2 separate regions of the Homo sapiens genome follow, and region 2 is linked to region 1. A link means that fine-mapping ties the variant in region 1 to the expression of a gene that starts in the linked region. Tissue or cell type: blood mononuclear cells. Region 1 holds a variant in brackets; the other region holds the start of a gene. All regions are shown on one strand. Distances are between the middles of the regions.

What was found. PIP is the estimated chance that this variant, and not a neighbour inherited with it, causes the effect.
Region 2: it holds the start of PNMA6A, and the variant in region 1 is fine-mapped to the expression of PNMA6A in blood mononuclear cells (TOPMed, PIP above 0.99). The same link has a PIP of 0.9 or more in tibial artery.

Annotation. Positions count from the first base shown.
Region 1 is chrX:153,104,303-153,106,983 of GRCh38, reverse strand. No RefSeq gene overlaps it. Among named protein-coding and RNA genes, the nearest start is that of PNMA6A, 33 kb to the right of the region's middle. The variant C/G (reference allele first, on the strand shown) is at 1,140.
Region 2 is chrX:153,071,239-153,073,919 of GRCh38, reverse strand. It overlaps PNMA6A (PNMA family member 6A), which reads right to left and starts at 1,466. Exons shown (of 2, transcript NM_032882.6): 1 at 1,314-1,466; 2 at 1-985. The coding sequence starts at 857.

The sequences.
Region 1 (2,681 bases):
TTGCCTAGGGGCCCCCCCAGAATCAAACAGGGAGCCATAAGGATGCCAGAAGTATCTCCTCACCTCATCTGCAGGACCCAGCCCTTGAGCAGGGTGCACAAGACTCAGCTCGTTACTGCCTGTGGTGGCACAGTAACAGCCCCCAAAGATGTTCGTGGCCTAACCCCTGGGAGCTGCACATATGTTACCTTACATGACAATAGCGATTGGGCAGATGTGAGATGGGTGGGGAGATTATCCTGGATTGGCCAGGTCTTTACACTTGAAGGACAAGGGTCCTTAAGTGAGGGAGAGGGAGGAAGAAGAGTCAGTGTCAGAATGATGCCGCCAGAGAAGGACTCAACCGGATGTTGCTGGCTTTGAAGACGGAAGGAGTCAAGAGCCAAGGAATTCAGGCAGCCTCAAGGTGACAGGAAAGGCAAGGAAAAGGGTTCTTCCCCTAGAACTTCCTATTTTAGACTTCTGACCTCCAGAACTGTAAGACGATAGATCTGTGTTGCTTGAAGCAGCGGGTTTGTGATAATTTGTTACGGCAGCAACGGGGAACGAAAACACCACCTGCCTGCAGGTGCACATCTGCAGCACACTGCGGGGGTGGGGGTTGCTTTCACTGTGGTGAAATAGACATCACATTACATTTACTATTTTAACCACTCTAAAGTGTACAGCTCAGTGTCATTAAGTACATTTGCAATGTTGTGCAACCACCATCTCTACCCAGTTCCAAAAAGAATTTCATCATCCTCACAAAGACTCCTCCTCCCATTAGCAGTCACGCCCCATTTACTCCTCCTCCCAGCCCCTGGAAACCACAAATGCACTTTCTGTCTCTATGGATTTACCTCTCTGGGCGTTTCATAGAAATGGCTTCCTGTTATATGTGAACCTTTGTGACTGACTTCCTTGTCTTTTTTTTTTTAATTGTAGTGAACTACACATAACACAAGATTTACCGTTTTAACCATGTGCACACACACACACATGCACACACAGACACAACTCTAGTGAATATTGTTAACCACGAGTGTCATTTCTTGCTTCCTCATATCTTAGAAGGTTTCATATACTGCTTTACTTTAAGTACCTGCCCGCATGTCACTTACATATAAGGTAAGTATTATTGTTCCTGTTTTACAAAT[C/G]GAGAGAGAGAGAGAGAGAGACTTAGAAAGGTTATGTGGCCCAGGAAACCAGTTACTGAGAGATTCTTCAAGATTGCAGTTTGCCTCCCTGGGCCACTTAACCCCTGACCTCAAATGATTCGCCTGCCTTGGCCTCCCAAAGTGCTGGGATTACAGGCATGAGCCACTGTGCCTAGCCTGTAGTTCTCTATCTTGAGAGAGATGACCCTCTGTTGTGAATCACAACAGGTGCAGGAGGCATGTGGCAACATGGAAAAAGAGAAATAGAATAGCCAAGAAACTGATATTCAGAAGATCATAGAAGAGGGCTCCAGTTTCATGGTTCCAAAGACTCCCTGAATAGCCCCATGACAATTCAACACCAACATGATGAAAACCAACTCATCCCTCCACCATGTGGTTTCTCCCATAGTCCCTGTCTCTGTTGGTGGCACCTTCCAACCCAAGTGCCAAGCTAGAAACAGTAGGGTAATCTGTAACATTTTCCTTTGCACTGCCATCCACATCCTATCATCCTCACTATCTCCAGTGATGGGAGGGGCTTCCATGAAGACCTCTGACATGCACTGGAGACATATTCCCCCTTGTCTTGGGGATTAACATATGGCTCCTTGTTACTTATGCAAATTTCTGCAGCCAGCTTGAACTTCTCCTCAGAAAATGTGTTTTTCTTTTCTATTGCATCATCAGGCTGCGAATTTTCCAAACTTTTATGCTGTGTTTCCCTTTTAAAACTGAATGCTTTTAACAGCACCCAAGTCACCCCTTGAATGCTTTGCTGCTTAGAAATTTCTTTCAGCAGATACCCTAAATCATCTCCCTCAAGTCCAAAGTTCTACAAATCTCTTGGGTAGGGCAAAATGCCACCAGTCTCTTTGCTAAGATATAGCAAGAGTTACCTTTACTCCAGTTCCCAACAAGTTCCTCATCTCCATCTGAGACCACCCCAGCCCAGATTTCATTGTCCATATCATTATCAGCATTTTGGTCAAAGCCATTCAACAAGTCTCTAGGAAGTTCCCAACTTTCCCACATTTCCCTGTCTTCTTCTGAGCCCTCCAAACTGTTCCAACCTCTGCCTGTTACCCAGTTCCAAAGTCACTTCCACATTTTTGGTTATCTTTACAGCAGCACCCCACTCTACCAGTACCAATTTACTGTCTTCATCTATTTTCACACTGTTAATACAGACATACCTGAGACTGGGTAATTTATAAAGAAGAAGTTTAATGGACTCACAGTTCCATGTAGGTGGGGAGGCCTCACAATCACAGCAGAAGGTGAAAGGCACATCTTACACGGTGGCAGGCAAGAAAGAATGAAAGATCCAAGTGAAAGGGGTTTCCCCTTATAAAACCATCAGATCTCGTGAGACTTATTCACTACCACGAGAACACAATGGGGAAAACTGACCCCATGATTCAATTTTCTCCCAACCAGGTTCCTCCCACAGCACATAAGTGGAACACAACACTTAAATGGAAGCTACAATTTAAGATGAGATTTGGGTGGGGACACAGCCAAACCATATCAGCATCCCAT
Region 2 (2,681 bases), 33 kb after region 1:
AGGCGCACGCGGTCGGCGGATGCTCTGGCCAGGGCCTCCTTCTCCATGGCCTTCTGCAGCAGCACTTCCAGCCGCAACACGAAAGCTGAGAGACGCTCGCCTGACTGCTGCTGAGCGGTCAGACACTTCACCCGGATGGTCGCCTGGGACTCGTTGTCTCCAAACACCTGGGCCAGGGCCGCCAGACAGTCCTGCGCCGTCCTGGCGGGGTTCTCCGCCAGGAGCGCGTGCACGAGCTGCAGGGCGGTCCCACGCAAGCCTTCCAGCAGCCTCCTCCTCCTCTCCCTTTCCGAGACCCCCTGCCACACATGCAGCATTTCGGTGGTGTGGTCTAGCCAGACCTCAAAGGACTCCTCCCCTGGGGCTGGCTGGTCCCTCCCGGAAAACACGCCCAGGCTCTGGCACCTCACGGCCTCCACCCAGGGCTGGACCGCCTGACCGATGGATCGCAGCCAGCACACCCTGCGCAGCCCCACACCCAGGGCGCCGGCCACGCTCTCCACCATCTGCCCCTCTTGCTCCGGGAAGTGGAACACGCGACCGAGACCGAGAAACTCCTCGCCTGAGCAACGGGGCACAAAGACCACGTTCCACGGGCCCCCAGTGCCGGGGATTTCCCTGGGGACCAAAGCATAGTTGACTTCCCGGTCGAGCTCGACCAGGGCCGCGGTGGCATTATCCTCCTCTCGAAACGCTTTGCCTAGCACTGTAAAGTGTCCCATAGGCCTCAGGGCAGCCTCGAGGGACTCTTGGAATTCGGCATCATCACAGTCCTCCGGGATGCCCAGGATGAGCAGGCCCCTGCGAGCGTTGACCCCCATCCACCGGCACCAGTCCTGCAGCATGGTCACCGCCATGCCCGCGATTCTGGCCAGTGCCGGGCTGACACGAGGGGCAGGATAGGGTTCCCAGCGCGGACCAGGGTGGCACGGGGCGGCGGGGGTGTGGGGGGATGAACTGGGGTCGGAGCCCAGGTCTCCACAGCCTGTGAATGCGAGCGGGCGAGAGCGAGGTTAATGCCCACCCCTCCCCACGCCCACGTCCACGTCCACGTCCACTCCCACCCCCAGCCGCCCTCCTCCCCTGGCCGCGCCTCTGCAGCCAGGCCCCGCCCCTGTCCCGCCCCGCCCCCCCGGGGGGGTGGTCCCTGCGGGTCTTGGCCTCATCCCCGCGCCGCCCCCGGACCCCGGACCCCGGACCCCGGACCCCGGACCGCTGCCCCGCAGGCTGCTTCAGTTCTGTTAGGGCGGACAGGCGAGGGGCGGCGGAGTCTCCCGGGACCCAGCGTCCCCCTCCCCGGGTGGGTCTGATACCTTTTCCCGGGGCAGGGTCCCTCCTGGTCCGGGTCCCCACAGGGCGCGTCGGGGGCTGCGCGCCGCTGCGGCGGCGGCGGGGTCGGGCGCCCCTGGCTCCCCGCGCGGGCGTTCCCTCTGACTGTGCCTCTCCCTCGCTCGCTCGGCGTTTGGGCCGGTGCGCAGGCGCCTGCTCGCAGCCGCTCTCTGCAGTGCGGTCACGCGGCCGGGGTGCGGCGGCGGTGCAGCGCGGACCCCTCCGCGTCGCCGGCCCGGGAGAGCGCAGGGCCGTTGCCGCGGGCGGGTCACGTGGCCTGGCTCTCGCCGCCTTCCCGAGCGCCCCAGGACCCCGGGTGACGTCACCTGCTCCTATCCCCTAGCCCCACCCCCACTCCCCTCGCGCCGCGGGTCCCGGGAACACAGGCGCCAGCCCACCCCCACCCCCACCGGGGTGTCCAAAGGTCTGTGGGCCGCAGGTCCCAGCGCCTTTGGCTCTCACCACAGCGGTTCCTGGTCCAGGCCTCTGCCCCTCCCGCACGTGCCCCGGAGGCAGGCGCCAGCGGGGCGACGGGTGTGCACCCCGGCGTGCCCACCAGAGGGCCAGGGAGTGGTCTGAGGTGCGTCCGGCAGCTCTGCGTTCTGGCCAGGGTCAGGGAGCCGGGTTCTGGGGCCTGTGCACCTGCTCTTGTCCTCCCCCTCCCCGTCCAGGACTGGTCCTCTGGCTGGCAAGGCCAGGCGAGGCCAGGGGCACCTGGTGCGGGTGCCATTCCGTGGAGGAGATGCCCCAGGCGCTCACGCAGCTCACGCACACCATCCTACGGAGGGTCTGCCATCTCCCCGCTGCCCATCCGGCTTCAGGGACCCGCAGCCCTCCGGCCGAAGCACTTTGCTGCCCTGGTGCCAGGAGCCAGCACCTAGGAGGGTGACCCAGCACCCAAGTATGCCCGGGCCTCGTCCGTTTTGCAGCCGCAAGTCCCGAGTCTGGGTCTCTGCCTGAGTGTGTGCCTGGAAAGGTAGTCCGCGCGGAGTGGGCTACTCAATTTGTCCCCTGCCCCCTGTGCCCTCACCAGCCTGATGGGCTCTGGGACATTGCTCTCTTGGCCCTGAGGGCAGCATGGGTGTCGTACCTCCCTGGAGACCTCCGTCTGTCAGGGCCTGAGTCAGCCTTCCATAGGTCCTTCCCCAGTCCTCTGTTGCCGGGGCTAGACACTGCGCCAGGGCAGAGCAGCCTCCGCTCAAAACAGAGATTCTGCGCCCGTGGATCTGACCACCCTGCACCTGACCCATCATGGGAGGCTGGGGCCATGTGAACAGCATCTCCACCAGGCAGGTGGCAAACAGGTTCCCACGGGGTCACACCTCTGGGTGTCGTTCCCTCATCCCCTTCTC